Linked DNA regions of Homo sapiens. The protein of the gene in region 1 interacts with the protein of each later gene in a biochemical or structural test. Each region holds a gene or a part of one and is shown on either strand. Other genes may lie near its edges.

Evidence for each region. The genes of interacting proteins can lie anywhere in the genome.
Region 2: the proteins of GJC1 (region 1) and UBQLN4 form a complex in vitro, tested with the Homo sapiens proteins (one study listed by BioGRID).

What each region holds. Positions count from the first base shown.
Region 1 is NC_000017.11:44,823,012-44,827,959, reverse strand, and holds part of GJC1 (gap junction gamma-1 protein), read left to right. Parts: intron 1-4,948. UniProt on the Homo sapiens protein: One gap junction consists of a cluster of closely packed pairs of transmembrane channels, the connexons, through which materials of low MW diffuse from one cell to a neighboring cell.
Region 2 is NC_000001.11:156,047,299-156,050,798, forward strand, and holds part of UBQLN4 (ubiquilin-4), read right to left. Parts: intron 3,256-3,500; coding exon 2,993-3,255; intron 1,362-2,992; coding exon 1,203-1,361; intron 1-1,202. UniProt on the Homo sapiens protein: Regulator of protein degradation that mediates the proteasomal targeting of misfolded, mislocalized or accumulated proteins.

The sequences.
Region 1 (4,948 bases):
ATGAGTTCCAAAAAATATTGCTTTATTTGTTGTATGTTCACATTTCAAAATTGGTGAGGTGTGTTCTTTTTTCTTTTTCCTTTTCCTTTTTTTTTTGAGATGGAGTCTTGCTCTGTCGCCCAGGCTAGAGTGCAGTGGCTGGGACTACAGGTACCCGCCACCACGCCTGGCTAATTTTTTTTTGTAGTTTTAGCAGAGATGGGGTTTCACCATGTTAGCCATGATGGTCCCGATCTCCTGACCTTGTGATCCTCCCGCCTCGGCCTCCCAGAGTGCTGGGATTACAGGCGTGAGCCACCGTGCCCGGCCATCCTTTTTTTTTTCAAAGACATTGCTATGATGCCCAGGCTGTCATAGTACACTGCAGCCTCAAATTCCTGGGCTCAAGCCATCCTCCTGCCTCAGCCTCCTGAGTATACCCAGCTAATTTCTTTTTTCTCCTCCTTTCCTGTCCTGTCCTGTCCTTCCTTCCTATAGTTAAGTTTGACTAGGGGGTATGATTACTTATTTCTGAACTTATGCTTTTCTTGTAGTGTAGAAATACATGTGGCTTCTGTTCAAAATATTTGATAAAAATTTAGGCAAAGAAAAAGCAGGAATTTTTTTTTTTTGTTTGTTTGTTTTTGAGACGGAGTTTAGCTCTTATTGCCCAGGCTGGAGTGCAATGGTGCTATCTTGTCTCACTGCAACGGTGCTATCTTGTCTCACTGCAACCTCCGCCTCCCGAGTTCAAGTGATTCTCATGCCTCAGCCTCCCAAGTAGCTGGGATTACAGGAATGCCCCACCATGCCCAGCTAATTTTGTATTTTTTAGTAGAGACGGGGTTTCACCATGTTGGTCAGGCTGGTCTCCAACTCTTGACATTAGGTGATCCGCCTGCCTCTGCCTTCCAGAGTGCTGGGATTACAGGTGTGAGCCACCGCACTCGACCAGATTATTAGTTTTGTAAGACCGTTCCTTTGAGAATAGGTATGAGAAGATAGATTTTGGCTGATATCGTTAACCTGAAATTTAGACATAGAAAACAGTTCTGAGCTGTTAATATCAGCTGAATGGCAACAGTTGTTTTTCAACATACTGCTACAGCTGATGAGTTCAGTTTGTGTTGAAATAAGAACCTAGTAAAATGTATTTTTAAAAATATTTTTTAAGATTTAAATACAAATAATTTTAAATACAAAAAACTAGCTGGGCGTTTGAGCATTGCTATTTACTGCAACTCTAAAGAGTGAATGACCTGTTAGTCAGTACTGGCTGGCATACAGTTATACATTCTTGAATTTTACAAGTACTGTAGTTGGCTGAGAGCAGTCCTTGGCAATAAAGGTTTATCTTTCAGACCTGTGGAATATATTGCCCAAAGAGTTTTCCTAAAACAAGGATATGATGATCTCTTTGCAGATAGCATTTTACTTTTTTTTTTTTTTTTTAGACGGAGTCTCGCTCCATTGCCCAGGCTGGAGTGCAGTGGCGTGATCTCTGCTCACCACAAGCTCCACCTCCCGAGTTCATGCCATTCTCCTGCCTCAGCCTCCTGTGTAGCTGGGACTACAGGCGTCCACCACCATGCCCGGCTAATTTTTTGTATTTTTAGTAGAGACTGTTTCATCGTGTTAACCAGGATGGTCTCGATCTCCTGATCTCATGATCCGGCCACCTCGGCCTCCCAAAATGCTGGGGTTACAGTCGTGAGCCACCGTGCCCGGCCAGCATTTTACTTCTAAAGAAATGAAATGGGGCCAGGAGTGGTGGCTGATGCTTATAATCCCAGCACTTTGGGAGGCCAAGGCGGGTGGATCACCTGAGGTCAGGAGTTCAAGACCAGCCTAGCCAACATGGTGAAATCCCATTTCTACTAAAAGTACAAAAAATTACCTGGGCGTGGTGGCAGTCATCTGTAATCCCAGCTACTCGGGAGGCTGAGGCAGGCAAATGGCTTGAACCTGGGAGGTGGAGGTTGCAGTTAGCCGAGATCGCATCACTGCTCTCCAGCCTGGGCGACAGAGCGAGACTCTGTCTCAAAATAAAAAGAAAGAAATGAAGTATTCTGGTAAATGAATTCTTCTCCAGCTCTCAGTTGAAGCTTTGTTCTTTGAGGCTATAATGCTTGTAATACAAGCACAATTTGGACAAAAGCATTCTGGTGCCCATTAAGTCATTCAACTTTTTTTTTTTTTTTCTTTTGAGACTGAGTCTCACTCTTTCACCCAGGGTGGAGTGCAGTGGCACGATCTTGGCTCACTGCAACCTCCGTCTCCCAGGTTCAAGGAATTCTCTTGCCTCAGCCTTGCGAGAAGCTGGGATTATAGGTGTCCACCACCACGCCCAGCTAATTTTTGTATTTTTAGTAGAGAAAGGGTTTCACCATGTTGGCTAGGCTGGTCTCGAACTCCTGACCTCAGGTTGCCTCAGCCTCTCAAAGTGCTGGGATTACAGACGCGAACCACTGTGTCTGGCCCTTTTTATTTTTTTGAGACGGAGTTTTGCTCTTGTTGCCTAGGCTGGAGTGCAGTCGCGCAATCTCGGCTCACCGCAACCTCTGCCCCCTGGGCAAGATTCTCTTGCCTCAGCCTCCCAAGTAGCTGGGATTACAGGCATGCACCACCATGCCCAGCTAATTTTGTATTGGTAGAGACAGGGTTTCTCCATGTTGGTCAGGCTGGTCTCCTGACCTCAGGTGATCCACCTGCCTCGGTCTCCCAAAGTGCTGGGATTACAGGCATGAGCCACTGCGCCCAGCCTTTTTTTTTTTTTTTTTTTTTTTTTTTTTGTAATTGAGACAGAGTCTTGTTCTGTAGCCCAGGCTAAAGTGTAGTGGTGCTCTCAAGCGATCCTTCCACCACAGCATCCCTAGTAGCTGGGACCACAGGCCCACACCGCCACCACGCCCAGTTAATTTTAAAATTTTTTTTGGAAGAGACAGGGTCTTGTTTTGTTGCCCAGGCTGGTCTTGAACTCCTGGGCTCAAGCAGTCCTCTTGGCCTCTCAAATATGGGGATTACAGGCCAAGGCACCTGGATCCCAACGTTTTTTTTTTTTTTTTCTTCCCCAAAACATATAAGCACTTGATTAAAAAAAAAAAATAGTTGGACTCTTTCTTTCCCCCCCTTCTCACTATTGCACTTGACTAATTTTTTTTTTTTTTTTTTTAAGACAGTCTTGTTCTGTCATCCAGGCTGGAGTTGCAGTGGTGCGATCTCGGCTCGCTGCAACCTCTGCCTCCCAGGTTCAAGCAATTCTCCTGCCTCAGCCTCCCAAGTAATTGGGACTACTGGCGCATGCTGCCACGCCTGGCTAATTTGACTGATTTTATTTTATTTATTTTATTTTTGAGACAGAGCCTCACTGTGTCACCCAGTCTGGAGTGCAGTGGCACACATGTACTCCCAGCACTTTCGGAGGCTGAGGCTAGAGGATACCTTGAGCCCAGGAGTTTGAGACCACCCTGGGCAACATAGTGAGGGCCCTGTCTCTGCAAAAAGTAATTTGAAAATTAGCTGGATGTGGTGGCATACACCTGTGGTTTCAGCTACTCAGGAGGATGAGGCAGGAGGATTTTTTGAGCCCAGAAGTTGAAGGCTACAGTGAGTTGTGATCACACCATGCACTCCACCCTGGTCAACAGAGTGGGACAGTCTCTATTTGAAAAAAGAGGCCGGGTGCGGTGGCTCACACCTGTAATCCCAGCACTTTGGTAGGCCGAGGCAGGCAGGTCACAAGGTCAGGAGTTCGAGACCATCCTGGCCAACATGGTGAAACCCTATCTCTACTAAAATACAAAAAATTAGCCGGGCATGGTGGCGCGCGCCTGTAATCCCAACTACTCTGGAGGCTGAGGCAGGGGAATCGCTTGAACCCGGGAGGTGGAGGTTGCAGTGAGCTGAGATTGTGCCGCTGCACTCCAGCCTGGCAACAGAGCAAGACTCCATCTCAAAAAACGAAAAGAGGGCCAGGCACAGTGACTCACGCCTTGTAATCCCATCACTTTGGGAGGCCGAGGTGGGCAGGTCATGAGATCAGGAGATCGAGACCATCCTGGCTAACACCGTGAAACCCCGTCTCTACTAAAAATACAAAAAATTAGCCAGGTGTGGTGGCACACGCCAGTAGTCCCAGCTACTTAGGAGGCTGCGGCAGGAGAATCGCTTGAACCTGGGAGGCAGAGGTTGCAGTGAGCTAAGATTGTGCCACTGCACTCCAGGCTAGGCGACAGAACAAGACTCCATCTCAAAAAAAAAAAAAGGAAAGGAAAGAAAGGCCAGGCATGGTGCCTCACACCAGTAATCACAGCTCTTCTGGAGGTCATGGCAGGAGGATTGCTTGAGTCCAGGAGTTCAAGACCAACCTGGGCAATATGATGAGACCCTGTCTCTACAAAAATAAGAAATTTTAAAAAAAAGGAGGAAAGAGGCTAGGTACGGTGGCTCACGCCTGTAATCTCAGCACTTTGGGAGGCCGAGGCGGGGGGATCATGAGGTCAAGAGATCAAGACCATCCTGGCCAACATGGTGAAACCCCGTCTCTACTAAAAATACAAAAATTAGCTGGGCCTGGTGGCACACACCTGTAGTCCCAGCTACTTGCGAGACTGAGACAGGAGAATCACTTGAACCCGGGAGGCGGAGTTTGCAGTGAGCTGAGATCACACCACTGCACTGAAGCCTGGTGACAGAGCAACACTCCGTCTTAAAAAAAAAAAAAAAAAAAAAACAGGAAAGAAATGCATAGGGTTTCAGAGTAAGTTTTGATGTTTTTCCTCTATATAAATCGGATAAACTTCACACACCCCTATTCTTATCCTCTAATCTCTAAACTATATTCAACTCCCAATAGTTATAGAGATTATTTTCATTCACATGTTTGTAGTATTTATCAGTTTTGGCTTAATTTATTATTACTTAACTAATGAGTTATAACATTCCTTTTGGGAACGTTCAAATTAGAGCT
Region 2 (3,500 bases), on another chromosome or scaffold:
AGTGGCACGATCTTGGCTCACTGCAACCTCTGCCTCCCGGGTTCAAGCGATTCTCCTGCCTCAGCCTCCCAAATAGCTGGGACTACAGGCATGTGCCATCATGCCCGGCTAATTTTTTGTATTTTTAGTAGAGATGGGGTTTCACCATTTTAGCCAGGATGGTCTCGATCTCCTGACCTCGTGATCCGCCCACCTCAGCCTCCCAAAGTGCTGGGATTACAGGTGTCAGCCACTGCGCCTGGCCAACTTTTGCATTTTCAAACATACAAACATAGAATGTGTTTAATGTAAAATTAAATTTTTAAAAAGAACCATGGCCAGGCGCGGTGGCTCACTCCTGTAATCTCAGCACTTTTGGAGGCCAAGGTGGGCGGATCATGAGGTCAGGAGATCAAGATCATCCTGGCTAACATGGTGAAACCCCATCTCTACTAAAAATATAAAAAGTTAGCCGGGCGTGGTGGCATGTACCTGTAGTCTTAGCCACCAGGGAGAAGGCAGGAGAATTGCTTGAACCCGGGAGGCGGAGGTTACAGTGAGCCGAGATTGCGCCACTGCATTCCAGCCTGGGCGATAGAGCGAGACTCCATCTCAAAAAAAAAAAAAAAAAAGAAAGAAAGAAAGAACCAAAAGGGCACTGAAATTATATATGGCAACATGTTAGGGCAACATTGATTAAAAACAAAAAAAAAGAATGTTACATTTTTATCTATTTTTTTGTGTGTACTTGAATAGGATTCATAAAGCATTTTTAAAAGTGTATAATCCTGGGGCCCAACCCCAGAAATGGATTCAATAAGTAGCTCAAAGGTGGGGACCAGGATTCTCATTATCAACAAGGTCCCCAGGTGATTCTGATGCAGGTGATCCATGGACCATACTTGAGACATGCTGTATCAGGGCTGGCGTCTGACCTCAGGCCTGCCACGTGACCTTTGAGCCCCTGGTACAAGAAGTTTGTCAGGATGTCAAGTTCCTTGGATGCTATGCCTCAACCACTTCCACAAGGACCTCTGCTTATATTTGTCCATGCCAAAATGGACCATCCCCGGATATGTACTGTTGAGAACTGCCTTCAAGCCAAGGCCCACCCCTCAGGGGACTGGGGAAAGAAAGAAGAGCAGGCCCAGGTTTGCCTGGGGTGGGGGTAGGGAATCTCGAGCCCAGACAGCCCAACCCACTACCCTGGCCCTTGATCCCACCTGTTCCCGGGCAGCACTGAACATGGGCTCCTGGATGTCCGTGTACATGCGGCGGAGGGCATTATACCCTCCAGGGATGCTCTCAAGGTTGCTCAGGGCCCGGTCCTGGTTCCGCATCATCTCTTGCATCATGGCTGGATTCCGAGCAAGCTCCATTGTCTGATCAAGGGAGAGAGACAAAATGGGCCCCGGAACCAGGGGAGCACCAACCTAGGAAAAGGGTGGGCCTTGAGGAAGGGGGGTCTGTATCAGGATCAGGACCAGGGCCCAGGAACTGCCCCACAGTGACAGGGAGTAGAGTAAACTGGACTTCCTTCCTCTACTGTAATCTTGGCTCCAAGCCCGCCTCCCTGTGGGTATTTTGGTTGGCTTTTTCTAGTGGAGGACAATGATCCCAGCTGAAGTGAGGGCAGCAGCTTCCCTCCCTTAGGCTCAGAGTGTCCAAAGAAGTGTCAGGGTGCACAAGGAAACTGAGTCAGAAGAGACACAGAAAGAAAGGGGAGGAGGCAGAAGAGAAAATTAACATCTACTGAGAACCTACTGTATATGGGCACAGGGCCAAGTAGCTTACGGAATTCAAGTCATGTAATCTCCACAATAACCATCTCAGGTGTTTATTTCTGTCCCTATTTTGCAGATGAGCAAATAGGCTCAGAGATGTTAATTGACTTGCTGCCCTGGGACACACAGTCACTGAGTGGTGAAGACAGTGTTCAAAGCCAGGTTGGTTGGTCTGTCCAAGACCATACTGTGATTCCTGGTAAATGACTGCAAGTTGGGGAAGGAAAGCGTTCAAGCTGGAATAAAGCTACTGACACCCTGTAATTCCCACCCCCAAGTCTTTGCTCTGCCTGAACCTTGAGAAACACTGAAGATGGGGGCTTTCTTCTATGGAGCCAATGGCACAATCTCAATAAGGGGTGGCTATGTCAACCCCGGGGGAGTTCATCACAGAAAAATAAGTATAACTACTTGTTCCCATTCAACTTGGAATACCTTCCCTCTCCTTCCCAAATGTGCTCCACACTTGCCTTTTCTAAGACTCCTTTATAACTGATATGCCCAGCTTCCCAGAACTCTGATCTCTTGTTCCGTAATTCATTCATTCAATAAATATTTACTGCATGACTACCACGCACCAGGCACTGTTCTAGACAGTGAACAAAACACTCACAAGTCCTTGACCTTACATAAATTATCTTCTGGTGAGTCCAGCACTGGTGTCCACAGCCCTGCTGGGAAGATCATCTACCTTGGTCCTCTGGTGGAGCGGACCATGAGCTGGAACTCCCAAAGAGCAACATCACAACAGTCTCCCCTGGTTCTCCATTCCCAACTGGGCCCTGCCCAGCCACAGTGCTCCCCAAACAACCTACTATCTTTCACTCCCAGGCCTTTATATTTGCTGTCCCTCAGCCCTGAATGTTCTTCTTTCTTTCCCCCTGGTTCGTCTTCCTCCTTTGGGTCTCAGCTCGGTGACATTTCTTAAGGCCTCCTCTAAGCCTTAGGGTAGGGTCAGGAGCTCTTCTCTATGCTCCTAGAGGATCCCATGATTATCCTTCTGATAGCAATGGCCACATTGTATTCTAATTGCCGGTTTACTTGTCCTACTTCCCTTTGACACCTGGAATTCCTGAAAAGCTAGGCCTGTCTTTTCATCCCTGTACCTCCAGTGTTCAAAACTGCTGAATACACGAATGAACAAATCAATGTAGGACAAAGTAGGAAAGGCTGGGCAGGGCACGGCTGGGCACCAGTGTCCTCCAGCTCTCCAGCCCTCTCATACTCACCTGCCTCATGAGTTCAGGGTTATTGAGCATGTGGCTGATCTCAGGGTTCCGCTCCATCAACTGCTGCATCTGGGGGTTGGCCATAATCATGTGACGCATCAGATCAGGGTTAGACATCATATCCTGGACCAGGGGGTTCTCCATGATCTGTGACAGCATCTCAGGATTGGACATCAGCTGCCGCTGCATCTGCTGCTGCAGCTCCATGAAGTTGGCAGAGCCCAGGCCTAGGCTGCCCAGCCCCAGGATGCCCCCAAAGCCAGCTGTGGGAAGGGGGCAGGGTCACAGTCTGCCACAAGAACAGTGTCCTCACTTAGCCAGAGCCACTGAATTCAGATCTCCAGGACACGCCCCAAATGCTTCTCACATGTCCCTCTTCCTGTCATTCCCACAGCCCGGCCCTGATCCACTGCTGGCAAAAAAATGTGAGCCTACTAGACTGAGGCTGTGCCAAACATAGAACTGAGCAGAGAGAAGGCAACCAGCAATGGTCTGTTGAATGAGTGGC